2 separate regions of the Homo sapiens genome follow, and region 1 is linked to region 2. Evidence: fine-mapped expression QTL. A gene starts in region 2. The other region holds a variant in brackets. All regions are shown on one strand. Distances are from middle to middle.

Region 1 (12,798 bases), 19 kb after region 2:
TGATTTTTCACTTACTATGTTTTTGTCTTCACATGTGTAGGTAGCTAAGTTGCAGTCACCAAAAACCCCAAATAGGTAGGAGACATCCATGCGCCATTTCTATTAGCCAGTTCCTAGCCATCCTCCTAACTGTTGGATCTGGAGGGTTAGCCTCAGATCATTGCAGTTATAAACAGTCCATCCCTGGCTATCTTTTCTAGAAGGGTCCAGTGTCATCTCAGCTAGGCAGAAACGTATTTCAACTCCCAAACTGTTTCAAGAGTTTGAAAAGCTCAGGCCCAGAAGAAACAGAGTGAGCAGTTGAACAGTCTTACAACTGCTGCTTACAACTTTATAACAGGCCATAGGTTTAAAGTCCAAAAGGGCTCAAATTTCTACCCCACGTTTGACGACTCAGACCTCAAGCCAGAGCTGAGCTGACTTCCCTGCGCCCAGGCCACGGCGGTGAAATGAAGGCACAGCAGCCCCGGCCAGGCCCTCCCAGTGGAGGCACAGGGGGACGGCGACACCAACCACCCCAGCATCAGTAACCTGCACACTCTTCTCCCTAGGTCTCCTGGAGGCAAGGCGACCTTGCTTGCCCTCTCTTGCAGAATAACAAGGGGCTTAGCCACAGGAGTTGCTGGCAAGTGGAAAGAAGAACAAATGGTGAGCAGCAGTGCCGTTTAAGGACCAGTCGGGCTTGCAAATGCATAATGGGAACGCAGAAAGGCCATGTGCAGATAGACTGGACACAGCCGGAGGCAGCTCAAATCTGCCCCAACCTTCCTAGGGGCTAAAAGACGAGTGACAGAATCTGTAGCTGATGAGCTGGGGTGCCTCACGAAGGGTGGCCTTTTTACCTCTGTCCTTTGCTTTTTTCCTTTTAAAATCATAGCTGTAGTTGATATAAAATATAACTTTGGGTGTGCAGCTTAAATGATGGTGAGGACTGTCCTGCCTGCTGAAAGGCAGAAACGCCTTTGCTTGTCATTGTTTCCCCAACATAGCATCCAAGACAAAGGGGGTGCTCTGTGACGCTTTGGAGCCTCTCTCACATTCTTCTGAGCTGCTGGCAAACCACAAGATGAGAGTCCAGTGGCTCAAAGGGAAGCGAGTGCTTTGCTCTCCAGTCCAGCCTGTGCAAACCTTGGTGATTTGCTGTCTATTTGTGTTGGTTTTATTGTTTCCTTTTGAAATTACTTGATTGTCATTTGATGCCCTGTATAGGTTGAGAAATTTAGTTGAATTTATGGACTGCCATGTAGCAAATAGGATGTCTCACATTTAACAGATGCATTTGTAATCCCGTTAACTAATGTAGTTTAAGATGTATGATGAGTTAATACCAAAGATGAGTAAAATGTCTAACTTTTTTCTCCTTCCTCTGTGTGTCTTTCCAACAGAGTCAATCCCGACGTGTCAATCCCGACGATAGAGAGCTCGGAGGTGATCCACAAATCCAAGCACCCAGAGATCAATTGGGATCCTTGGCAGATGGACATCAGTGTCATTTACTAACCAGCAGGATGGAGACGACGCCCTTGAATTCTCAGAAGCAGCTATCAGCGTGTGAAGATGGAGAAGATTGTCAGGAAAACGGAGTTCTACAGAAGGTTGTTCCCACCCCAGGGGACAAAGTGGAGTCCGGGCAAATATCCAATGGGTACTCAGCAGTTCCAAGTCCTGGTGCGGGAGATGACACACGGCACTCTATCCCAGCGACCACCACCACCCTAGTGGCTGAGCTTCATCAAGGGGAACGGGAGACCTGGGGCAAGAAGGTGGATTTCCTTCTCTCAGTGATTGGCTATGCTGTGGACCTGGGCAATGTCTGGCGCTTCCCCTACATATGTTACCAGAATGGAGGGGGTCAGTATCACAGGCTGCGAGTAGAGGCTGTGACCCAGGGTGGGCTGTGACCCGGAGTGGGCTGTGACCCGGGGTGGGCTGTGACCCGGGTGGGCTGCGACCTGGGGTGGGCTGTGACCTGGGATGGGCTGTGACCCGGGTGGGCTGTGACCTGGGGTGGGCTGTGACCCGGGTGGGCTGTGACCTGGGGTGGGCTGTGACCCGGGTGGGCTGTGACCTGGGATGGGCTGTAGGTCCTCTTGAGAGGCCAGAAGACAGATTATGTCTTTTCAGTCTTCACTGGCGTAAGACTAGGAACATGATGACTTAGACTTTCGAGCTGGTAGAAAAGTCAAATCTCGCCAGGCGTGGTGGCTCACACCTGTAATCCCAGCACTTTGGGAGGCTGAGGCAGGTGGATCACCTGAGGTCAGGAGTTCAAGACCAGCCTGACCAACATGGCAAAACCCCGTCTCCACTAAAAATATAAAAATTAGCTGGGTATGGTGGTGGGCGCCTGTAGTCCCAGCTACTTGGGAGGCTGAGGCAGGAGAATCACTTGAACCTGGGAGGTGGAGGTTGCAGTGAGCCGAGATGGCACCACTGCACTCCAGCCTAGGCGACAGAGCGAGACTCTGTCTCAAAAAAAAAAAAAAAAAAAAAAAGTCAAATCTCCAGCAAGCCAAAAGCTGAAGACAGCGTGTCTGAGGCTCTCCGGGTTGTGAAGCTGGGTGAAGCCCTCCCAAACCTGACCTCACAGATCTCCAGCATCATTAGCGCTCCATTTATTGAAGGGCCTCCTTCTCATCCTGCATTCTCCAGGCTCTGTCCTCCCCCAGCCAGAAGTGAGGGAATGGCCGTCAGCCCTGTGCTGAGTCCCTTCACTCCTGCTGGCAAGTTCTGCTGGGAAGAGTCCACGAGGGTAGGCCTGCGTAAGGGAAAATTTGGAGGTGGCTTCAGAGTCCCAGATGCTTCTGATCCTTTGGACCTGTGTGAGGTCAGAGAAGGGCATCAGCGTTAAGTCCTAAATCTTAATTACCAGTCTGGGCAGAATTTAAGCTGGATTAGATCCACAGCATGACATTAATACCAACCTCAAACCACGCATGGCTGGCCCTCCTATCTCCTCCTGGGATGTTAGATTTTTGAGGCCAGAGGCCCTATCTTGTTCCTTGTACCCCTAAAGCCTCTCAAGTAGTTAACTTGTAGATTATAAAAAATAGTAGCTGACTGTAGGCATGAAGATGGGAACCTGGGGGAGAGCAGAGCAGTGGGGAAAAGTGAATGGGTTTGGGGCCTCTGGACTTGTTATCAGCACAAGAAAATAACAAGAAGTGGGTGTCAGATGCGTCAAGCTTGATTTTCATGGGAACTCTGACAACAGATTTGGGAGGGCAGCTACAAAGAGGTTTGGGGATCATCCATTTGTGTCACCCTCACTTCTCCCGTGACCTAACACAGAGTGGCCTGGATTTACTCTCTTTTAAAGATTTCTGTCCATGTAGTTGCAAAGGTAGTTCCAGGGGGCCCCTGGGAAGCTCAGCGCTTCCTGCCTAGGAGGAGCAAAAGTCATAATCACCTTATCTCCTGCTCCAGAGGACTCACCTTTAGCCTGGGCATTATGTAAGGGGCTGGGTCACTGGTGACATTTCCCCGACACTCATTCCCCAGCGTAAAGCTGATCAAGCAAACTCTTTGGAGGAAGGCCATCACGAGAACACATGGTTTTATTCTCGAGCCGGGTTTACCCAGTGTGACTGTAAATTACATGGACCTTTCTGATTTGCACAGACCTCAGGTTTCTGGGTTCAGAGCATTTTACAGCAGGGAAAATTAGGGAAAATCACAGCTGATCCACCCTTTAGGCTAAAAACTCAGGCTGCAGGTTAGCATTCCCCAACTTGGTATTTTTAAATTCAGCCTCAGCCACAAGATCCAGGAGACACCAGCATCTCCAGTTAGGTAGCAGCTCTGTGCTTGCTTGTTCTGTGAAAAACTACCCTGTCCAGCCACTCCTGCAAACGGCGCTTGTCAGGGAGCATTCTGGCTCAATGGAATTATGGAAGTGTAGCCAAATATCAATAATCATGTGTCTGGAGCCATAGATAATACTGATGAACAAAGATACTGATTTGGTGACTCACAGAGAGTTGCAGCTGTTGCTACAGATTGTCACAGGTGATCTGTTCCAAGGGTCCCAGGTACTGGCTGCATCGGAATCACCTAGGGAGCTTGAACACAATTTTTGTGTTGTGCCCATGCTTGGAGATTCCGCTTCAGGAGGTCTGGGGTAGACCCAGGAATCTAGGTGACTATGATGTGTGGCTACATTTGGGAAACTCAGCTCTCCTCAACTGTGTTCTTTTATAGGGAGGAAATTGGGGCTCAGAGAGGGGAAGTGGCCCAGCGTTCTCCAGGTAGTCATAAGTGGATGTGATCCTGCCTGTTCTGTCGACTCCCAAACCAGGCTTTCTTCCCAATTGCTCTCTTGGCCTCCTCTGAAACCTCATTTTAGTCATGGTGCTCCCCCTACGACTGCTTCTAGCAAAGCACTGAGACCAGAGGAGCACAGCATGAGGCCACTCAGCCCAGGGTGGCTCCTGACACTCACATCATCCGGCGACTGTGATTCTCAGTCACAGATTGGTTGGGCTATCCTGGGACAGACGTGGGCAGGGAGTGAAATTGTCTTTCATCTGCCTCAGGGGCATTCCTCCTCCCCTACACCATCATGGCCATTTTTGGGGGAATCCCGCTCTTTTACATGGAGCTCGCACTGGGACAGTACCACCGAAATGGATGCATTTCAATATGGAGGAAAATCTGCCCGATTTTCAAAGGTAACTGAAGGGCTCGGTGGGGTGGGTAAGTGGAGCCTCTCAGGAAGGGATTTCCATCAGTGGGTGGGAGCTGGGGACCTTCTTCTGGAATCAGTCAGGCCTTAGGCATCCCTGGGAGACTGCTTGAGTAATTAAGGTTTTGACTGCGTAAGTGGTGTGAAATTGTCAAAGAGAAACAGAATAAACGGCAATGAGAAGTAAACTAATGTAAACATTTTAAAGCATTAACAGGACATGTACACATTTTCTAAAACATGTTACCTTGCAAATACATATGAGTGACTAACGGCAGGGCCACTTTTCCCACGGTGGCCTGGAGTCCTTGGAATGGAATGGAGGGCAGCACCCACGTGTACCCCTCTGCTGGGCTGCGGGGCTCTCCAGTGCCCCGTTTCAGCCTTTTGCCGTTGGGCCACCCTTAAACTCGGCCTCTGTCTCTCCATCTCACCCACTGCCCAGGGATTGGTTATGCCATCTGCATCATTGCCTTTTACATTGCTTCCTACTACAACACCATCATGGCCTGGGCGCTATACTACCTCATCTCCTCCTTCACGGACCAGCTGCCCTGGACCAGCTGCAAGAACTCCTGGAACACTGGCAACTGCACCAATTACTTCTCCGAGGACAACATCACCTGGACCCTCCATTCCACGTCCCCTGCTGAAGAATTTTACACGTAAGTGCACGTAAGTGAGGGGTTGGCCTGTTAGGGGCAGGCCACACCCCTGGGGTTTGGCTTCTTAAAAAGAAGGCCAGGGCCAAGGGCTCCTCACCCCTTTCTGAGAGATGAAGCTATCAGGGGTGGGAGTAGCAGAATTTGGAGCTGGGAAACTCTACCTCAAGTGCTCCACGGCCTGGCCCTGCTGTGCCTCCTTGCACTTTCTCATGCGCCAAGTCAGTTTGCTCCAATGCGCCCAAGCCCGTCCCTCCCTTCACATTCCAAAATTACTCCCCTTCTTCCGGGGTCCTCCTCTCAGCCAAATGTCATGGAGGCGAAGCATCCTAGTACTTTGATAGTTCAAAACTATTCAAATGGTTTAATGTGTCAACTTCGTAAGTGGGATCTACCCTTTGGAAGAAGATGCTTGAGGAAGGTAGTTTTCTTTAATGCTGGAATTTCAGGCAATGGCAGCCCAAAGAGAGAGCTACTTTGGGGTAGGGAAGGGAGCCAACTCCCCACACTTACACATCCCTCATGTTCCCAAAAGCCAGTCACATTGGTCAAAGGAGTTCAGGTCCCATCCAGCAAAGGAGAATCCAGGAAGTCTGCCTTTAGGTTGAACACTCTTCCCAGGGTGTTGGCCAAATGTGCTTTGTGGTCCTTCAGGACAGGCAGGGCCAATCCCAGCTCTTCCTGGGCCTCAGTGACCACTTGGTCCTAGCAGCACCGTGTCCATTTGTCCCGGGCACCCTCAAAGGAGCAGCACAGATGTGTGCCCAGGTCACTCTACAGAGCCTCTCAGGGGCCTTTCTTTCTCCTTCACCCCAGGCGCCACGTCCTGCAGATCCACCGGTCTAAGGGGCTCCAGGACCTGGGGGGCATCAGCTGGCAGCTGGCCCTCTGCATCATGCTGATCTTCACTGTTATCTACTTCAGCATCTGGAAAGGCGTCAAGACCTCTGGCAAGGTGAGGAAGGCTCTGGCTGCTGACCCAGGCCTGCCCAGGGGCCCACAGGCTCTCAAACTCAAAACCCAGTAGCCTGGACAGACAGCACTGTTTCCTTCCACACCAAACACATTCCATGATGCACCCTCTCTCTCTTCACCGCATTTGTTAGAAAATTCTAGAAGTGGGTTGGGCATGGTGGCTCACGTCTCTAATCCCAGCACTTTGGGAGGCTGAGGTGGGTGGATCATTTGAGGCCAGGAGTTCAAGACCAGCCTGGCCAACACATCGAAACCTCATCTCTACTTAAACAAACAAACAAACAAACAAACAAACAAACAAAAAAAAACAATAGCCAGGTGTGGTGGCAGGTGCCTGTAATCCCAGCTACTCGGGAGGCTGAGGCAAGAGAATCACTTGAACCTGGGAGGTGGAGATTTCTGTGAGCCAAGATCATGCCATTACACTCCTGGGCAGCAGAGTGAAATTCTGTCTCACTAAAAAAAAAAAGGAAAAGAAAAAAGAATATTTTCTAGAAATGGGCCAATGCCAAGAACCATTACATGATTTTTTTTTTTCAAGATTCCTTCAACCCACTGGTAGTACCACAATTAATAATCGTGGCAATGACTTACTGGAAACCCATCATGGACCATGTTCAGTGCTTTTTATACACTGGCCAGTGCTATTGTTTCCTGCTAGATACTCCCTCAACCTTACAGATGCATAGTGGGCTCAGAGGTAGTTCTCCTGGCCAACCTGAATCCGATCCCTGTGTGACTCCAAGGGTTGTGATCTTTCTGCCACACCACCTCGCCCTCCTTTCTCAAGGTCTTCAAGAATAAAAGACACTGACATCCATTCACCCACCTCCCTCCCCTCCCCTCCCCTCCCCCGCTCCCTTCTCCTTCTCCCCTCCCCTCCCCTCCCCTCCCTGGAACAGCATGGTGATAACCCTTCTTCCTTACAGGTGGTGTGGGTGACAGCCACCTTCCCTTATATCATCCTTTCTGTCCTGCTGGTGAGGGGTGCCACCCTCCCTGGAGCCTGGAGGGGTGTTCTCTTCTACTTGAAACCCAATTGGCAGAAACTCCTGGAGACAGGGGTAAGATGATGAGGGAAATATGTGTACCTGTCTGTCATTTTACTAAACGAAGCTGGTCCTCCTCCAAATAGGACAGTAGGGACAACTGAAATGTGGCTTCAGTGTGCAAGTCTGCAATGATACTTTAACCAAGAAATACAAGCATTAAAGTACAGTTGAGGCCACTGGATGGGTTTATGCCTGAATCATAGGAAGAGAAATCACATTTGTTGGCACTTGGTTTATGGCTATGCCTGGAATGAGCCTTAAAAGCTGTTTTTCTGCCTCTGCACTTAGCCACATGGAGGCAGGAGTGGCGACCCTGTTGGTGCCAGGGTAAGCCTGTGTCTCCCCCTCACCCCATGCCCTTACCCCTGCTGTGTTCCAGGTGTGGATAGATGCAGCCGCTCAGATCTTCTTCTCTCTTGGTCCGGGCTTTGGGGTCCTGCTGGCTTTTGCTAGCTACAACAAGTTCAACAACAACTGCTACCAGTGAGTATCTGGGGTCCCCAAGCAAAGCTTGAAAGTGGCGTGAGTGAAAGTCAGCTAGTGTGGAGGAAGGTGATTGGACCGACGGCCTCGAATCTGGCCAGGCTTAGGCCTTGATACCACTGCCCCTCAGGGGTGCTGCAGGCCCCTGACCAGCTCACCCATGGCCAGAGCACTCATCCAGGCCGTGGCTTCACCTGGGCCACTCAGGCTGAGAGGGGCCCCATGCCCTTCGGTTTTGTCAGCGCTCCTGTATATAAAAATAATAAGAGGCTGGACATGGTGGCTCACGCCTGTAATCCCAGCACTTTGGGAGGCCAAGGCAGGTGGATCACCTGAGGTCAGGAGTTCCAGGCTAACCTGGCCAACATGGCGAAACCCTGTCTGTACTAAAAATACAAAGATTAGCCAGGCATGGTGTTGCACACCTGTAAGCACAGCCACTTGGGAGGCTGAGGCACGAGAAGTTGCAGTGAGCTGAGATCTTGCCACTACACTCCAGCCTGAGTGACAGAGCAAGATTCCAGAAAGAAAGAAAGAGAGAGAGAGAAAGAGAGAGAGAGAAATAAAGAAAGAAAGAAAGAAAGAAAAAAGAAAGAAAGAAAGAAAGAAAGGAAGGAAGGAAAGAAAAAGAAAGAAAGAAGAAAGAAGGAAGGAAAGAAAGAAAGAAAGAAAGAGAGAGACGGGGTGCGGTGGCTCCCACCTGTAATCTCAACACTTTGGGAGGCCGAGGCGGGTGGATCA[C/T]GAGGTCAGGAGATCGATACCATCCTGGCTAACACGGTGAAACCCCATCTCTACTAAAAATACAAACAAATTAGCCGGGCGTGGTGGCGGGCGCCTGTAGTCCCAGCTACTCAGGAGGCTGAGACAGGAGAATGGCGTGAACCCAGGAGGTGGAGTTTGCGGTGAGCCGAGATTGTGCCACTGCACTCCAGCCTGGGCGACAGAGTGAGATTCCATCAAAAAAAAAAAAAAAAAAGAAAGAAAGAAAGAGAAATTGCAAAGCAAGTTTACAAAAAGCTGCAACATACAATTAAGTAGTTAGGTTTAACTAGTCAATGTGTTTAACAATAAAAATTGTAATGTGATTATTTGTATTATGTATAAACAAAAAGTATGATGATCACATTATTTTGACTAACACAAAATACCATAATTTTTCTTTTCTTTTCTTTTTTTTTTTTTTTTTTTGAGACGGAGTTTCGCTCTTGTTGTCCAGGCTGGAGTGCAATGGCGCAATCTCAGCTCACCACAACCTCTGCCTCCCGGGTTCAAGCGATTCTCCTGCCTCAGCCTCCCGAGTAGCTGGGATGACAGGCATGCGCCACCACGACTGGCTAAATTTGTATTTTTAGTAGAGATGGGGTTTCTCCATGTTGGTCAGGCTGGTCTCCAACTCCCGACCTCAGGTGATCCACCTGCCTCAGCCTCCCAAAGTGCTGGGATTACAGGCGTGAGCCACTGTGCCCAGCCAAAATGCCATAATTTTTGCAACAAAATCCTATTTCAGAAATTTTAACAGAACAGGAAATGTTACACCAATTATGGTTTTAAATATCACCCACTGGGCCAGGTGCAGTTGCTCAAACCTGTAATCTTAGCCCTTTGGGAGGCTGAGGCAGGAGGATCACTTGAGCCTAAGAGTTTGAGTCCAGCCTGGGCAACATGGTGAGATCCCATCTCTACAAAAAATTTAAAAATTAGCTGAGTGTGGTGGTGCATGCCTATGGTCCCAGCTCTTCAGGAGGCTGAAGCAGGAGGATTGCTTGAGCCCGGGAGGTTAAGGCTGCAGTGAGCTGTGTTCATGCCACTGCACTTCAGCCTGTGCAACAGAGGGAGACCCTATCTCAAAAATAAATAAATAAATAAATAAATAAATGTCACCCATCATCTTTAGACTTAATTTTAATTGATCACAGATGGCAGCATCCATCAATCTCTTTGTGCTATGCATAAGATAATTGTAAAACTGATTTTTTTAAAGGTGGGAGGGAGATTCACATGTACCCTAAGCAATGTGGCCTTGCACTGGGACACCACCCTGCAGTTGTATGATGAGGCTGTCATTTAAAAGTGTGAGATCAGGAGTTTGAGACCAGCCTGGCCAACATGGGGAAACCCCATCTCTACTAAAAATACAAAAATTAGCCAGGCGTGGTCGTGGGCGCCTGTAATCCCAGCTACTTGGGAGGCGGAAGCAGGAGAATCACCTGAACCCGGGAGGCAGAGGGTACAGTGAGCTGAGATCAAGCCACTGCACTCCAGCCTGGGCAATAGAGCAAGGCTCTGTCTCAAAAAAAAAAAAAAAAAAGAAAAAAAAATGAGGGTATCTCTCTGGCTGGCAGTCTGTGACTTAGTTTGAAGATAAAGCCTAAATCTGAGGATCTCACAAATGTGAGGCTCAGGCCCTGTCCTGGCCCCCACTCCAACCTGGGCCCTGCTCCAGAACAAGGCTGGTTTGAAATGGAGAGGTCTGTGCTAGCAGGATTGCCTTTTAAAGCACCCCTGACTGCTCTTCTCCCTCCACCATGTGTGGTGGTCATGGCAGTCAGAGCTTCAGGCCTCGGCAGCTGGGTTCTGGGAGAAGGCGAAGGGACTCCGGGACAGGCTTGAGGTTCCTTGAGTTCAGCCTGCTTGTCCTTGCTGTGGCCGCCCTGTCTAAGGCAGGGCAGGCACACGGACAGATGCTCCTTAGACCCCTGATCTTGGAACTGTCTCAGGCGGCCCCTTGGGTTTTCCCCTCCAGAGATGCCCTGGTGACCAGCGTGGTGAACTGCATGACGAGCTTCGTTTCGGGATTTGTCATCTTCACAGTGCTCGGTTACATGGCTGAGATGAGGAATGAAGATGTGTCTGAGGTGGCCAAAGACGCAGGTAGGACCTCGGGTTCTATGCAGGTCCCTTGCTCCTACTGAGTTGCTTTGCTTTGAATCTTTGTAAAGATCTAACTTTTGATTTATTTCTAAATGTTCCTGAAATTTTCCAAAGAAGGCTGGGCATGGTGGAGTTCAAGACCAGCCTGGGCAACATAGTGAGACCCTGCCTCTATAAAAAAATAAATGAGCTGGGCATGGTAGTGCACACCTATAGTCCCAGCTACTCAGGAGGCTGAGGTGGGAAGATTGCTTGAGCCTGGGAGGTCAAGGCTACAGTGAGCCATGATCACACCACTGTACTTCAGCCTGGGTGACAGAATAAGACCCTGTTTCCAAAACATTTTTTATTCAAAGATTTGAGAGAAGCTCGATGCCTTAGAGATCTTTCCATGTGTTCAGGCCATGCAGGGACAGGGCAACTCCCTTGGCACCCAGTTCTGGGGCCTCCAAAATCTATGGGCTTGAAATGATGACTCTGATGATGGCTTTAAAACCAGTGGGTTTGCTTCCTGTGATGGTCTTGTGATGGCTCAAAGTCTAGTAAGCAAATATCATTTATCCTTAGAACTGCCCCTTGCAGAAAAAGAAAATCTAGCCAATATGACCACTCTATTTTACCGTGAAGTTTTTGTGGAAAAAGAAAAGAGCAACAGAGGGAGAAAAAACAGATGATGGCATCTAGTGGGCGAGGTCCCAGGGCCTTCTTGTTACAAGCATGTTAGCATGCTTGTATCTTTGGCCTGATTCGGTGCTTTGACCAACCCCATACCCCAAACGAGGGCACCCCTAGCTAACCCATGAGAGGCTGAAGACATGTCCCTCACACTTTCAAAAGGGACTTTAAAATAGAAAGAGGTCTTTATTCCAAAGCCTCTGTGACTCTACGGAAATCAATTTAACATTTCCTACTGTTCTGAAGCTGAAGACATCAGAGGGGGCTAACTGTCATGGACTTTAGAAATATCAATCCTGGTCCTGAGAAATCCCATGGAATTGTTATATGGTGGAAACTCTTATTCTCATGTGCAGCTTTGCCAGTCTCTGGGTCTTGGATCTGTTACCCACCCCCAGGGTTAATGGAGGGCACACAGTTTTCAAGATGGAAGCCCCACCCTTCCTGCCTCCCAGGAACTGGGGTGGCCACGTCAGACGGAGTAGAGTGTGAGGACGCACTTGGTGTGTGTCAAAACCTGATTCACACATAAGGTCTTGTGATGAGAATTGTAACTGTTGTTGTGGCTGAGTTTTCCTCTGTGACATCTTTGTAGGACAGGTCTTGTCAACCACCTCCTCCTCTCTCCCCTCTGTCTCAGGTCCCAGCCTCCTCTTCATCACGTATGCAGAAGCGATAGCCAACATGCCAGCGTCCACTTTCTTTGCCATCATCTTCTTTCTGATGTTAATCACGCTGGGCTTGGACAGCACGGTGAGGAAATGGGAAGGGGAAATGGGCTGTGGGAGGATGAAGAGGAAAGGAGGAGGACTCAGCTGGACTCAATTCCCTCCCATCCCTGGCCATCCCAGGCAGCTTTGGCTACTCCCTTCTGGTGCTCCAGACCCCCGGCTGACTCCTCGGCATTTACCACCCTCTGGTACATTCGAGTCATTAATGGGATAAAGTGGGTCAAGCGCCAGGCGCTTATGAGGCCCAAGGCTCACATATGTGAACTGTTATTAAGCACTGTCCCTTGGCCCAATTATGGCGCCTACAGGCCGGGGCGAGGTCTCTCCTGGGTCTCTGCTTTGCCAAGGGTTCAGTTCAGGGCCTGGAATTATTAGTGTGGAGTGAGTCTCAGCTTTGAGTTGGCCTTTCTGGTGCAAACGGAGTCTCCCCGAGAGACCTCATATATTGAAGTTCTGTCCACGTGTGCTATTTTGTTTCCTGGCTCTCCTTAGTGATGGGCTTTAAATGACAGTGTAAAACAGGGAAATACTCTTTGAGATGCTTACATGGTCCAGCGAGCCGGGGAACTGGTGATGATCAGCTTGACCAGTCACTTAGCAACCTTACCCCTCCCTCCTGTTCACTGTCCTGAAGGCCACAGCCTTGTCCCAAAGCCTCCACCGTG
Region 2 (15,810 bases):
AAAGTCAGTTACTCCGTTGGCTCCCAGGGGCGGGAACTTTGTCCTGCTTGTGACTGTATACTCAAGTGCCTGGCTCATAGGAAATATAGGGTAGGCTGACACTGAGCACACCTTCTATTCTGACAGCTATAATTAACGAACAGTTTTTACATAGACCTGAAGTCAGCTTCACTATAACTTGCTCAGCAGGGACAAGTAGAACAAGAACAAAGCCCCTGGAGATGTTTGTATTTCAACATTTCACATTAAGGTCTTGATTTCATTTCATGCAGGTTCCTGGCAGTGGGGAGAATAGGTAGGGAGAGAACCACAGAGGCTTACCTGGCTTCCTCACTGCTTGAACCTTTTTTGTTTCAAATCAGCCCAACACAGCGGGAAGAGCAGGGCCTTTGGACTCAGATATGCTGGCCTTGCCACTTGGCAAGCATATAAGTGCCTACACCTGGCAAGTCTGTATAAATGTGGAGAAGCTACTTAATCTCTCTCAGCCTCTGTTTCCATGCTTCCTTTGTTGAAAAACAATATTAAAATTTATTCACTTCGTGAGGTCGAGGTGGGCAGATCACAAGGTCAAGAGATCGAGACCATCTGACCAACATGGTGAAACCCTGTCTCTACTAAAAATACAAAAATTAGCCAGGCGTGGTGGTGGGCACCTGTAGTCCCAGCTACTCAGGAGGCTGAGGCAGGAGAATTGCTTGAACCCAGGTGGCGGAGGTTGCAGTGAGCCGAGATCACGCCACTGCACTTCAGCCTGGATGACAAAGCGAGACTGCATCTCAAAAAAAAAAAAAATTATTAAATATGAGAACTCAGCCTGAAACCTGGCTGAGGAAAACTATATTTTTTGATAACATATATAGTTATCCAAAAATAATAATACCAGTTTATATTGCATATTTCCCATATGGTAGAAAAAGGACAGAAGATAATGCATATAATGTGCCTAGTAGAGGCTCAATAAATGGCAGCTTTTATTAAAAACAGTTCTCATGGAGATTCTTCAATGTGTCCAGTGTTGTGGGAGCCCCTCTGGGAGTTAAAACAATTCCCTTCTCTCCAACCAAATTTGTCATTTACTTGGGAAAATAACATGTTTATGCATGAACCAGTTGAAAAGGTGACTTTATATGAGAGAGATCTTGCAGTAAACTCCGTAATAATTGTGAAAGGGCTTGAAGTTGGAGAAGGTAACGTGCTGACTTGTTTTAAAGTAACTTCAACCCACAGTGAACGCGGTGATCAGCTTACCAAGAAGAAACTAAGGGAAGCCCTTCCTAGATGGAGAGGCACAATTTACCCTGAAGTTTGCTGAGAGGAAGAGCCAAAGAGAGGGTGAGTGTCTTATAAACTTGAGCAGGAGAAAGAAAAATGGAAATGGGGTACAGGAGAGAGGATTGGCTTCAGGAGCTGGGAGCAGAGGGCTTGAGTTCTAAGAGTAGGTCTAGCTCTTTGATCAGATCTTGAGCAAAGCCTTGGACTTCACCTCTTGGCTCCCAGCATCTTTGCTAATAAATAGGAAAAAAAAATGTCCTGCTTAAGTGAACAGCACTGGTGATGTGTAATGTGGCACGATTTGGTGGGTAGTGCGTCTGGTGTAACATGGAGCTGAACTCCTTCAAACTCCCTAGGGCTCCTCCCTCCTTTGTGAGAAACTTGAGGCCCCTTAGAACATCTTTTTTTTTCCCTTCCCCTCTTTTCTTTCTTTTCCCTCCCTTCCACCGTTACCCCTTTCTTTCTTTGCCTTTTATAATTAAAAAATGCTTTTCTGAAAAAGTTTCATAAAAATATCACCTGCACATGGCAAATATTTAAATAGTATAGCAGGGTAGACATTGACAAAGGGGGTTTCCCTCCATCCTAATGTCCTCTGCCTCCAAGGCACCTACTGTTCCCAGTCTCTTCTGTGTGCTTACAGATTTCAATACACATATCAGCCCCCATGCCTTGCCCTCAACAATTTGGAGTAACAACTGTTCTATGCATTTTTTTTCCTCCATTTACAATAAATCTTGAGAACTCCCCCAGATCAGCCCATAGAAAACTGCCTTACTCTTTCTACCTGCTGCATGGTACTCCATTGGTGGATATGCCACTGGGGCCCTGGTTTTATGGCACTAAGTCTGGTAAGACTCAGAGGCATTTTCCTAGCCCTTCATTGCTGGTGTGTACATTTATGGAGCCTGCTGTGCGCCCACACAGTGATAGGTGTTGAGGCATGGAGAGAGGCAGCACCCTGTCCCTTGGGAACCCAGAGCCTGGGAAATTCGGAGAGGGACCAAGGTGCTGCAACAGCTGTATGTGTACAGGGCGGTGGGGCCCTCCCTGGTTCTCTGTGCTTCTGGCGTCAACATCTCCACCAACGTGGAAGGGAAAAACAGCTGCCCTCTGGAGTGTGGCCCTGGCTGATGAAGTCAGGGAAGGGAATCCCCTAGGGAGGAAGTAGAAATCATAAACCCTTAAGGAAGGAGACCACCACTTCTCCTGCTGCCCTTCTCCTCCTCCCCTCCGACCCACCTAGTTTATAAGACAGAAGATAAGGAAAAAAGCAAAAAGTCAGAAAAAAAACAGAAGTAAGATAAATAGCCAGACGACCTTGGCGCCACCACCCGGCCCTGGTGGTTAAAAAATAATAATAGGCCGGGCGTGGTGGCTCACGCCTGTAATCCCAGCACTTTGGGAGGCCGAGGTGGGTGGATCACAAGGTCAGGAGATCGAGACCATCCTGGCTAACAAGGTGAAACCCATCTCTACTAAAAATACAAAAATTAGCCGGGCATGGTGGTGGGTGCCTGTAGTCCCAGCTACTCGGGAGGCTGAGGCAGGAGAATGGCATGAACCGAGGAGGAGCTTGCAGCAAGCCAAGATTGCGCCACTGCACTCCAGCCTGGGCAACAGAGCAAGACTCTGTCTCAAAATAAAATAAAATAAAATAATAATAATAATAATAATATCAACCCCTGACCTAAACTACTTGTGTTATCTGTAAATTCCAGGCATTGTATGAGGAAGCATTGCAAAAGTTTCTGTTCTGTTAGCTGATGCATGTAGCCCCCAGTCATGTTCCCCACGCTTGCTCGATCTATCACAACCCTTTCACGTGTACCCCTTAGAGTGGTAAGCCCTTAAAAGGGCCAGGAATTTCTTTTTCAGGGAGCTCAGTTCTTGAGACATGAGTCCGCTGATGCTCCCAGCCGAATAAAGCCACTTCCTTCTTCAACCTGGCATCTGAAGGGTTTTGTCTGAGGCTCGTCCTGCTACACCATGGCTCACAGAGATTGCAGATAGATCGTGGGGTAGTCACAGTATCTGTAAAGTCTGGGGTGTCACCTACACCCTGATTTCTCCTCACGTGTGAGTATCCTTCAAGCTGGGCCTTTCCACATCAGCCACTCCTGCCTTTTCCTCTCTTTTAGAAAAAATTATCTGTGAAGTCTGAATATACAATGAGTTAAGCAGGGTTAGCAACAGAAACTTAAATCGATGCTAATCTGACAAATACTTACTGATTTTAAACAATTATTACTGTGCCTCTCAATGGGGTTGTGGAAGCAGCAGGGGCCCATGGTGAAGACTGAGGGAATTAATTATGGGGCTTAGATAGAAAGTGCTATAAAAGTCTTAGTTATTGTTATTGGCATTAGCATTTGCCCAGCAAGTGCTTCTGGGGGTGTTTGGGGTGTTATCATAGAGTGAGTGGTGTGGTGAGGCTGCTGCCGTAATACCTGACTGAGAGATAATGGGAGTTCAAGTCAAGAGGATGGTGGGGCTGGGGAGAGGGAGGTGGGAGACCGGGTGATGGGGTGCTAGGAGGAGGGTTTAGCAAAGGCAGAAGGCTCTGGAGGAATGAGGGGAAGGAGCTGGGAAAAATGACCAATGACAAAATGAACCTACTTCCAAATGTTTCTGGCCTTTCTTAGGGCTGAACCTGATCTGTTCCTCCCCCAAACCCCCCGCACTCCCAAAAGGACCTTGTCTGGAGTTCCCTTTAGCTTGCTTCATCTGGATGGGGTGGGCCTGCTAGGGGCTCCCATGGAGACCTCCGTAGAGATGAGCCCAGGGTTCACAGTGGCAGCAAGTCCTGCCTTGGAGGTGCCACTGAACATGAATGTAGAGTCACCAGAACCATGCCAGGAAAAACTGGGGGTCCCAGGAAAAACCAGGGGTGTCGGGGAGGTGCTGGTGGGAATGGAGCAAGATGACACTCTAAGGACTGAATATTGTCAGCATTTTCCTGGGCCTGAGAAAAAGCCCACAAGGAGGGGTGGGCCTTCTTCTTTCGTTATTGTATAAACAGGGCAGAGACAGGACAGACAGATGGCACCAAGGGCTTCCGGAGGGAGAGCCTGGGATTCGCATGGTTCGGTCCTGGCTGGCTCCACAGGGGACTCACTGCTGGCCTTTGAGACTTCCAGGAAGTGGGTTTTCTTGGTGGTGTTTGGGGCAGGTGTAAATATTTATGTGCCCCTTTCCTCTTAAAGTGAAAGCTTGTATTTATTCTGAGCCCCAGAGCAGCTTCTAAGCCCCACTATTTCTGGGCTCAAGCAGGTGAACAAAGAAAAACTATTGCTGTGCGGTGATTGCCAGGCAGCCTCTTCCCAGCTGCCCAGGACCTGTCGCCCTTGACATCTCCCTGGCTGTCCCTATACACCACCAGCACCAAGCTTCGCAGGTGCCTGCTGGGTTTCTGGCTTGCATCTCTTCCCTGCGGCCACCAGCTGACGCCTGCATTCACATTCTAAGGAACCCGTCTGTCCCAACCACCACGACAACCCCCTTCCCCCCTACTCTTACCTGCAGCCCACGCAGGTCACAGCCATTAGATCCTTCCCCTGAAGCGCTGCTTCCCTCCTGCCGCACTCAGGGCTCCCTCCTGCCTTCCATGCCCAGGACAGGGCCTCCCGGCCTCTCCAGGTCTCTGGAGCAGAGAGGTTGTGCCTTCCTCATGCGGTCAGGCTCAGGCTGGGAAGGAGCGGCCCAGAGGCGGGGGGAGGCACGGGTGCGGGGCTGCCTCTTCCCCGGTAGTGGACGCTGAAGCCTGTCCACCTGAATTGGAGGCGGGGCGGGGCAGTCGACTGACCGCCAGGCAGGGGAGCAGGGCGCGGGCTCAGAGGGAGGGAGTGGGAGGCCGAGGAAGGACAAGGTGCTTGTGGCGATGAGTATCAGAAGGCAGAGCGGAGCTGCTCAAGAGAGGCTGGCTCTGTGGAGGTGAGGACCTGCAGGTGGGCCTGGCCTCTCTGTGGGATGGTACCCAGGGCAGGAGGAAGAGAAACACCTGTTTAGAGAGAGGGGGAGGGTCTGGGCCAGTTGTGTGCGGACTCTGCCATGGAGGCAGGGGGAACCAGGGCGGGGCCGTCTGTGTAATTCTAATGTCATTTGCTAATGGTGGTTGCCCGCAGCTGGGGAGCAAGAGGGGAGGAGATGGGACCACCCGGCCAGAGAGAGGAGGGGTCGAAGGCCCCCTTGGAGGAAGGGCCCAGCGCACAGGGCCTGCAAGGAGTTGGCCCCTTCCCCACCCACAGCTGGGCAGTGCCCACTGAGATCATCCTCCCTACTTCACAAACAGAGACACAAAGGCCAGACAGCTTGAGGTTAAGGAGCTCGGTCAAGCCCACACCACAGTACAGGGTGGGGGCCGGGATTTGACCCAGGTCCACAGGGTGCCCACTCTCTAGGCAGCACCTGCACAGAACAGGGCAGTGCCATAGGGAGGGGCTGCGCGCTGGGCAGGAATGCATCTTCGGCTAGAAAGAGTCTAGAAGGAAGATCAGAAGTGGCGAGACTGCACAATTAAGAAGTGCTAAGAAGTCACACTGGACAGACCTGGTCTTGGTAGCCAAGCGCTGAAGTCACCCCTGCAGCCGTCCTCCGCTTTGGCGCCTCTTCCCAGCGTCCCTGCCCCCCTCCTTTGGCCCTCCTGGAAAGGACACTTTGCGTTTTCTGTTGCCCTTGCCTATACAGCACAAACATGCTCATTTAAGAAGTGGAACGTGGGAGGCAGCAGACAACTGTGTTCATCTGAAAGGAGGAGGCCCCACTCCCGTGCAGGCGCTGCCCCTGGGGGTGAAATTCCCAAGCTTGTTGGGGATTCTCCCGCCTGGCGTTGCCGCTCTGAATGCCAGCACCTAACCCCTAATGTCCCTACTGCAGCCCTCCCAGCATCCCCCCTGCAACCTCCCAGCAACTCCCTGTACCCCTCCTAGGATCGCTCCTGCATCCCCCATTATCCCCCCCTTCACCCCTCGCGGCATCCCCCCTGCACCCCCAGCATCCCCCCTGCAGCCCCCCCAGCATCTCCCCTGCACCCCCAGCATCCCCCCTGCAGCCCTTCCAGCATCCCCCTGCACCTCTCCCAGGATCTCCCCTGCAACCCCCATTATCCCCCCTGCACCCCTCGCAGTATCCCCCCTGCACCCCCCAGCATCCCCCCATGCACCCCCGGCATCCCCCCTGCACCCCTCCAGCATTCTCCTTGCACCCTACCAGTATTCCCCCGCATCCCGGCCTCCAAGCCTCCCGCCCACCTTGCGGTCCCCGCCCTGGCGTCTAGGTGGCACCAGAATCCCGCGCGGACTCCACCCGCTGGGAGCTGCCCTCGCTTGCCCGTGGTTGTCCAGCTCAGTCCCTCTAGACGCTCAGCCCAACCGGCCGCACAGTTTTCAGGGGTCAGTTCCTCCAAGTACAAGGGGCGGTGGCTTCTCTGGAGCTGCAAACTTGTCACTGCTATTTCCTTTCGGTCTTCTACTTCCTATCGTTCCTGGCCTCCTCTTGGGGAGAGGTAGAGCCCTCTCCTTTCCGCCTCAGGGACAACCCAAAGCAAGTACTGCATGTGCCCTTTTTAAAGTTTTAAATAATTTTAGCAAAAAGGATATTAACATTAAATCAATTTTTAAACTTTTTGAAAAAATTATCAAAACTACATGCACATGGTTCAAAACAATAGGCTCCTGCTGGGCCCTTTCAGATAATTCAAATTGTCACCAGGTTGGAGTGCAGTGGTTCGATCACGGCTCACTGCAGCCTCGACCTCCCGGGCTCAGCTGATCCTCCACCTCAGCCTCCTGAGTAGCTGGGAACACAAGCGCGAGCAACCACGCCCGGCTAATTAAAAAAATTTTTTTTCTAGAGATGGGGTCTTGCTGTGTTGCCCAGGCTGGTCTTGAATTCCTGGGCTCAAGCAATCCTCCCGCCTCAGCCTCCCAAAGCACTGTGCTCCTTTTTGACGCAGCTTTGAACTGTAGCTGGTTAACAAAATGAGAACCAGTTCTTCATTCCTTCATTGTGGAAGTCTTTATTGTGAGACTCTGGGGACGGAGAGGAATTAGACAAGGGCCTCTAAGCTGAGCTCACATCCCAGCCGGTCAGTCAGATAAACGCATGGGTATCGAGTACTGCTAGGTCCCAGGAAGAAAGAGAGAGCAGCTTTCGGGATGGGGACGATGGGGAGGTGTCCGAGGTCAAGAGAAAGCGGCACGAGCAGACCCCTGTGTGCCGTCCTGTGGGCGCGGGGCGGCAGGGGAGGCGCACACCTGCTCCTTTGTGCAGCCTCCCCCCTCCCGCAAAGTTAAAGAGCAGGAAAGTCAGGATTCCTCGCTCGGCCCTGCCCTGCCGGCTGCTCCGCGCTCCGCTCCTCCCTGCGAGCGTGTGTGTGTGTCGGGGGTCCCTCCCCTCCTGGCTCTGGGGTCGGGCGCGCACCCCGCCCCGTAGCGCGGCCCCTCCCTGGCGAGCGCAACCCCATCCAGCGGGAGCGCGGAGCCGCGGCCGCGGGGAAGCATTAAGTTTATTCGCCTCAAAGTGACGCAAAAATTCTTCAAGAGCTCTTTGGCGGCGGCTATCTAGAGATCAGACCATGTGAGGGCCCGCGGGTACAAATACGGCCGCGCCGGCGCCCCTCCGCACAGCCAGCGCCGCCGGGTGCCTCGAGGGCGCGAGGCCAGCCCGCCTGCCCAGCCCGGGACCAGCCTCCCCGCGCAGCCTGGCAGGTGGGTCCGCTTTTCCTCTCCGCCTCGAACCCACGTTTCTTTCCAGACCTTCTTCCCCGCCTCGGGGAGGGGGATAGAACCGCTGCGCCCCACCGCCCTGCGAGGAGGCGAGGAGGTGCATGCGCCCCAGCGGTGGGCGCCGGATCCTGCCCCTGCGCCCTCCACGCTCAGCAAGAGCCAGAGCTGAAGCTGACCGGCCAGAGTGGGAGACGAGGAACGTGGAGTGCTCGAAGTGGGCGGGCGTAGGGGGCTCCTTTGTCTATTGTTGCAGGGGCTTTGCAACCTCTTGAGGACCCGTGAAAGACCCCTTAAAGAGGGTCTTGAGCAAAGTGCTGTCCTGCGCTTTGGGAAGAGTTGCTTGCTTTCGTTTCAACCCATGGTTTATGTTTGATCTTTACTTTGCTGTCATCGCGTGCAGGTGGCTTTATGCAAAGGGAGAGTTCTGGTTGACACAAATGCCCAGACAGCTAGAGAAATCTCTGAGTGGCGCCTAAGTGGGCCGAGTCTCCGTGCGCTTGGGTGGTTTCACTGTCAGAGCTGAGGCGCTCTCAGACACCTCACAGGCCATTCAGAATGTATGTGAAACTCCAACTCCAACGACTGTGCTACGTGGTTGAAGGATATAACCATCATTTGCTTGAAAATTGTGTACATTCAAACTTGTTCTTGAAAAAAAGCTCTCTGGAGCTCAAGAGTGGATTTGGGTCTTGGGCTAAGGAGCAGATTTTCTTCTGAACTGGGGCTTTTGCATATTGAATTGTTCCTTTTCCATTTGGGACTCTGAAGAATTTGAGAGGGGTAGAATTTCTGAATCAGACATTACAAAGACTTTGTGTATGTATTTTTACCATCAGTTTTGTCCAGAAAAGTGAACCTGGTCAATGGATTATTTATGAGCCTGCTAGCTAACTCTCATCATAGGAAGACGAGAGCAAATATTTAATGTGTTTTGCCTTCAGTTACATAGGAAAAATGTCTAAGAAGGTGACATTGGGACTTGTGTTTAATGAAACAGAGAACTGTGGGCAGCGTCAGTGTTGGGTTTTTAGGAGCGTAGGGAGCACACAGCTTTGACTCTTTGTCCCATTACTTGCTTCTGTGTGAAGCCACTGAGGCCCCAGGGTTCGGGTTTTCCTGCCACGCACTCTGGGGTGGCAGTGACCGTTCCAATATGGATGAGTGAGAAGCAGGTTCTTATGAGGTTTGTGCAAATTGAGCAAGCCACTTGGGGCATGGGTTTTTCCTCTTTTCTTTCTTTCTTTCTTTTTCCCACTAAAGAACAGATTGAAAGTGCTTCACAATTAATCAAAAGTCCCCTCAACACTCTGGTGATCCATCTAAGACCTCTCAGAGATATAACCACCAGCACAGATATTCAAACCCATTTTTTTCAATCTCCTTGTTTAAGAAATATATATATACTAGGAGTGGGATGGGGGAATAATGTTGATGTTTTAATGGAATCTGAAAGACCTCAGAAATTCCTCTCGGGGGATGTTTAGAGTCGTCTGAGCATTTTGATGAAACTTGGAGAGGCATGTTGAAGAGTTTCGCAAATAGGTGAGGTGCCTGAGGAATGGGGATGCTTGGCTGGAGGGGGGTTAGGAGCATGGATCAGTCTGTTTCTTACAGCAGGTGCTTGCTTCCCAAACACCCTGGATGTCCGCTGCCAAACAGAAACACAGGTAACTCCAGACATTAAGCCAATACGTGGCAGCTCCTTCTCCTTCCTAGTTGTGGAATGAATGGTATAATTGGAGAGAATATAGAAGGCAGGGCTTCCTGAAGAAGCTTAATTTTAATTTGGCTTCATGAATCAACAGGATATGGTCATGACTTGACTTTTTCTAAAGATGTCTGGACAGCCAGAGCAAAAATTATACAGTCACTTTTGGTTGTTGTTGAGAAGGTAACTCAGACCTTAGTTATTCCCAGTAACATATCAGCTCCTCGTGGTCCTCAGCTCTAAATGAGGGGCTGTGGAGAGGACTGCCTAACACGATGTCCGAGTCCCCTCCAACTCACTCTGCAACCATGACCCTAACCTCTCCACTTTAAGAAAACATGAGTTGAAATGATGGTGCAAAAATGCCGGAGGGCCGGTACTCTCTACCCAGATATCACCTTCAAATCAGGGTCTCCTGGGGATCCCCTCAGGTTTCACTCTAAGGCAGAGGCTTTGCACACTCTGACACATGTAAGTAAGTTAACCCCTGCACCTTAACCACAGCCAACCAACAGGGGCCCAATAACCCGACTCCCCAGCTGCCCAAATGCCCTTTGCAAGATGCCCAGGGTGTGGTGCGGTAGAAATAGCCCCCAGGCAGCACAAATTTGGGCTGCACCGATTTTCCTGTCCAGTCCCTGGGCTATTAACAGCCACCTCCACTCCCTGATGTTTGCGGTGTTCCATGGAACATACGTGGGTGTGGAGCGAAACATCTCATAAAAGCGCCTGTTTCTCCACACTTGGGACAAGTGAGGCAGACTCCCTTGCTCTTACAGGGAATCTGTTTCTGGGCTTAACCAGGCAAAATGACATTCCAAGGGAAGAAAACTCCCATCTTTCTAGGAGGGACCCAGGGGAAAACAGATGAAACTAGCCTTTCACAGAAACCTGGCATCAATGATCTTCCCTGAGCAGAAAGGCAAATTGCTCTTCCAGGTGGGCACGGGCTCCACCATTGGCCTGCACAGCCCCGTACTTCCAGGTGGAGCTCACGGTGCTGACTTTGGTTCACATTCAGAAATGTTGCCCTGTGAGAAACGTCTCTGCAGGGGCTGCTCCCTTCAGCCTGACTTTTGTTTGCTCTGGGTGACTGGGAAGACGAATGCTCATTTACTGAATGTCAACAACGCGCTTTTAAATGGGAGCAAGTGTTTTCCCAGCCCTGTGTCTAATGAGGTGACAAAATGAGTAGCGATAAAGTGGATGTGAGGCAGTCTGACTGCCTTATTATTATTTCCATCTTTCCTTTGGCCCCTCTGGAACCTGGCAGCAGCTCCCCAGCTTCCATCCCAACCCTGAACCAAGGGGATTTGTTAATGGGATTTAAGCCACAGGCTCTTTAGCACCCAGGACTGGATGGACCTCCATTAATCCCAGAAGCCCCTGGGCTGCAAAAGGAGAGACGCAACCCAGTGATGTGGAGACAGAGAGGCAATGTCCCAGGTCTTCAGGTACTGACGAGTGACAGACAGCAAGGGGAGGGTCTCCTGGGATGCTGATGTCCAGTTCTTCAGGTCATTCTTTGAGGTAGGGAGGGAAGAGGTGACAGGAGGGGTTATGATGAGACCAGGTGGTGATCTGGGCGAGCACTTCTCAGCAAAGCTGGGGACACAGCGAACCCATTGTGTGCTTTGGGAGAGCCCAGAGCCCCAGACTGGGTGGGCAGCTAGCAGGAGGGGGCAAGTACGTGGGCCTTTGCCGTCTTGGGTTTTGGTGTGACCTTTCTGTGTGTATACAGGAAAAAAGAGCATTTCATTTCCTTTGTTACTGAACTGTTGAATAAAATAAGCTGATTTGTCTTCTCTAAGGGAACTTTTTCCTCTAAGGGGCCAAGAATTAGTGAGTGGGAGACCTGGAAGGACCAGGGAGGGGTTCTGCTCCCCGTAGCTCTGTGCATGGCTGGCTCTAGCTCACCCACGGCTCTTGAGGACAAAGCCAGGCCTAGAACTTGAGTCTCTTCTACTTTCGCTCTCTTCTCTTCCCTCCGTAATGATGGGCATGTCTTCTTTAAAAGGCGAACCAAATTAGCTGGCCCTTTCTCTTGTTTCAGAGTTGGGGAGCTGGGCCGAAGGAACAGGGAGGGAAGAGCCTGGAGGGGAGAGGGGAGGTAAGCTGTTCTGGTCAGCAGGGAGCTTTGGCTGACTGGAAGTTTCCCAGCACTGGCTGAGGGCTAGAATTATTTTTTCTTTTGAAAATTTTCAACTGAAAAATCAGAGATATGGTCCATTTTCACCAGTTAACATTTTGCCAATTTGTGTACAAAGTCACTCTAATTATGCATATATCTAATTTTTGCATATGCAGTATATATATGATTTGATATATTATGTGTAATATATAAGATCATTAATATAATTATGCCATTTATGTATCTGTATGTATACATACAGATATATATACACACTATATATACACATATGTACATACAGATACATACAGATATATATATACATATGTACATACAGATACATACAGTGTATATATGTGTCTGTATACACTATATGTATATATAAACTATATGTATCTGTATGTATACCTACAGATATATATAGTGTGTATATATATATCTGTAGGTATACATACAGGTATATATATACTATATATATAGGTTCAACTAATATATATAGTTGAACCTTTGAGAGTTTGCAGACTTCCAGATACTTCTTCCTTAAATACTTCAACACAGATTTCCAACAAACAAGGACCTTCTTGTACGTAACCACAGCGCCATTTTCATGCTGGGGAAACTGGAGATAGATACAATACTATTATCGCACATACAGCTCATATTCCCATTTCCCCCGCTGTCTCAATGATGTCCTTTTTAGCATACAGTGTTACTCTGTGAGACTGTAAACTAGGGGTCAGAAAGTTTTTCTTGCTCTCATCTCAGTGCATATCTGAGAACTAGACTGGTGCAATGATGTGTAAGGATGAACTGATTTTTCATGAGTGTCTCCAACTGTGTGACTCACACTAAAGCACATCTCAGAAATTGTTGACCTAAGAGTATAGGCACCTTTGAGCAGCAACAGCCAAACTCCAAACACCTTGTGGCTGAAGAGGTGGTTGCACGTGTCCTCCGCGCCCCCTCTCCACCTGGATGCACCCGTCTCCTCCAGCAGCCTCACCTCACCTGACCTCACCTCTCCTTCTCCCCTCCATGCCCCACCCAGAGAAATGGGCCAGTTTCCCCTCTCTTTTCTCTTCTCCACTCCCATTTTATTTTGTAGTTCCACTTCAAACCCCCTTTTCCCCACTTCCCTCTTCCGCCTTGCTCAGCAGCCACAGGTGAATCCACCCTTATTTCATAGCACCCTCTCCCTGGGGTTGTTTTTTCCTCTCTTCTCTCTGTTTTGGGTCCCTTTGTGGACCCAATCATGTCTGTTTTACACAAAGGTAATCTTAGTAACATACCTGTATAAAGGAAAAGAAAAGCTGTGTGTGGACATGTTCCCATGTGTTCTATCTCGATTTTTACTTATTGCATAAATTGTATTTATCACAACAGTAAAGGAGTGTTTGGAAGGTGAAGTGACACTCCTAATCCTGATTAATCTAACACATCATCTGTTTTGAGTTTCTCAAGTCTCTTTCCCAGCCTCGTCCACATTTAAATATACTATGGTAACAGAGTAAAAGCAGTTTTGTTTTCTGCAAAAAGTTGTAAGTTGTGAAATTATGTGTCACAAGCAATTCATGTCACCAACTTCTTCTTCTTCCTCTTCCTCTTCCTCCTCCTCCTCCTCCTCCTCCTCCTCTTCCTCTTCCTCTTCCTCTTCCTCCTCTTCTTCTTCTTCTTCTTCTTCTTCTTCTTCTTCTTCTTCTTCTTCTTCTTTCTTCTTTTTCTTCTTCTTCTTTTTTGAGATGGAGTTTCGCTCCTGTTGTCCAGGCTGGAGTGCAATGGCCCGATCTCAGCTCACCACAACCTCTGCCTCCTGGGTTCAAGCTATTCTCCTGCCTCAGCCTCTAAAAGGCTGGTATTACAGGCATGCGCCACCATGCCTGGCTAATTTTTGTATTTTTAGTAGAGACAGGGTTTCTCCATGTTGATCAGGCTGGTCTCGAACTCTGACCTCAGGTGATCCGCCCACCTTGGCCTCCCAAAGTGCTGGGATTACAGGCATGTGACACTGCGCCCAGCCCATGTCATCAACTTCTAAAGAACTTGGACCAGGCGCAGTGGCTCATGCTGTAATCTCAGCACTTTGGGAGGCTGAGGCAGGAGGATCGCTGGAGTCCAGGAGTTCAAGACCAGCCTGGGCAACATAGCGAGATCTCATCTCTACTGTGTATTTTAAAATTGAACAACAAACAAAACTAAAGACCTCAAAAGTGCCTAAAAGACACCTCCGTGGAATCTGTACAAGGATCTCCCTGCTCCTTGTTCTTCTTTCCTTAAATTTAGTTTTCCTTAAGAACCAAAAAGAAGGTTAAAATAAAGAAAGAACTTCGAATCAGTCTCATTGTCAGCCCCCTCCCCACCCCTAAGCCGTCGTGTAGCACTTAACAACGCTGTGTTCTACAGCTTTCGTTTCAGATGTTTTAGTTTATCACATTTATTTCTGTGGGTTAGGAAATATATTCTAAGTTCCAAACCACCAGCTCACAGATGAACATTTGGAGCCCAGACCGCTGATGGGTGTGCCTGCCAGTACTTGTTTCAAAGTCTGAAAGCCCATCCCGGGCTCTTTAATCCTGGGCATGTCAGTCTCTTCCTGTCCATAGTCCATGAAAATGACTGTTAAGGCAGCCCTCCTCCTCTGCCCACAAGATGCACAGCCAATCTTCCCGATGGGTGAGGCAGGGAGGGACAGGGCCCCTTAGAATAGAACCCTGATCCCATTTGACTTAACTCCAGGGAGGAGAGAAAGAGCAGCACCTCACATGGAGCTCAGATCTGTTGGCACCCTCGCCCAGTCAGGAAACCCAAAACAAGCCCTCCATGCTGAGAGCTGTACAGGGCGTGCTCCAGTCTGCAAGTATTTGGACTCAGGGACGTGTAGCCATAGCCCCTGCTTCCAGGGGCACACGAAGCAAATGTATATAAAAGGATAACTAATGATGCCTGGTAATCAATGGCGAGTGACAAATGAGAATTGAGTAGAAAGAGTGTATCTTGGGCTGGAGTGCTGAGAGGAGGTGGATAGAAGCTTATGCCAGGCCTTGGAGGGTGCAGGATAATTAGAGGAAGGGAAGCTACAGGTGGGGACGCACACGGCACTGTTGGTGCCTACTGGCCCCTGAATAACCTGCGGTATTTGTTAAAAACTGCAGATCCCTGAGTGCCCACGTGGATCTCTTGAATTAGAATCTCTGGGAGAGCAGCCCAGGAGTCTGTTTCCCAGGTGACCCCAAGCACTGATTGAGAGCAGCAAGCATGACCCAGTGAGGCCCGTGCTGGGAGCCACAGATCACTTAAGTCCCAAGTCTTGTGGGCCTCAGTTTCCCTGCTAGGGTATGAAGTAGAAAGGCACAATGGGTTGCGGATGTATGGTGGTGATAGTGACATCAACTCACTGTCATTTATTGATGCTTCCCTGTGCTAGACACTGAGATAAGCATGTGTCATACTTTAATTCCCACGACAGCCTTTAGGAAGTAGCGGTTTTAACAGTCTGCTTTTACACAGGAGGAAATGGAAGCTAAGAGAGGTTAAGTGACCTACTCAAAGTCACACAGCCATTAAGTGGTGGACCAGGGATTCCAGTGCAGACCTGAAACAGAAAGGAGAGCTATGGGTTGTGAACAGAGGAACTAATGAAAGATGACTCTGGAAGGAAGTTAGTCTGGGCTTGGCTGTTTATATTCACTGGAGGAGGGCTGTTCACATCTGCTATGCTAAATTCATTTCTTTCTAGTAAAGTCAAAATAAATAATCCAGTATCCTTTTGGCCAGCCTCTCAGGGGGACCTTGACCCCATCACAAGGGGCATATCCTCTAGATTTTATACTCTGTGTAGAGAGAAGCCCAGGGCTATCCTCTCCCAGGCAGGGAAAGTTCTGGACAGAAATTCTTTTTCTTTCTCATGATAACTGGCCCAAATGGCCCTGAGGATTTTATCCTATTTAATTCCTCTCCAAAAAATTAAACCAGGC

What was found.
Region 1: its variant is fine-mapped to the expression of SLC6A4 in whole blood (TOPMed, PIP 0.99).

Annotation. Positions count from the first base shown.
Region 1 is chr17:30,210,669-30,223,466 of GRCh38, reverse strand. SLC6A4 (solute carrier family 6 member 4) reads left to right here. Exons shown (of 15, transcript NM_001045.6): 2 at 552-648; 3 at 1,386-1,851; 4 at 4,536-4,670; 5 at 5,130-5,349; 6 at 6,163-6,301; 7 at 7,251-7,385; 8 at 7,753-7,856; 9 at 10,600-10,727; 10 at 12,043-12,155. The coding sequence starts at 1,509. Among named protein-coding and RNA genes, the nearest start is that of SLC6A4, 19 kb to the left of the region's middle. RefSeq lists enhancers at 509-1,024, 1,911-1,927, 1,917-1,933, 1,944-1,960, 10,346-10,805 and 6 more and cis regulatory regions at 1,978-2,010, 1,961-2,010. The variant C/T (reference allele first, on the strand shown) is at 8,598.
Region 2 is chr17:30,227,785-30,243,594 of GRCh38, reverse strand. SLC6A4 (solute carrier family 6 member 4) reads left to right here and starts at 7,898. Exons shown (of 15, transcript NM_001045.6): 1 at 7,898-7,982. It overlaps LOC105371720 (a long non-coding RNA gene), which reads right to left and starts at 6,097. Exons shown (of 3, transcript XR_007065698.1): 1 at 5,824-6,097; 2 at 4,795-5,275. RefSeq lists an enhancer at 4,366-5,266, cis regulatory regions at 6,262-6,304, 6,088-6,329, 6,432-6,451, 6,320-6,490, 6,718-6,757 and 2 more, a silencer at 7,482-7,664 and promoters at 7,165-7,919, 6,074-7,919, 6,100-7,924, 7,820-8,114, 6,330-8,114 and 1 more.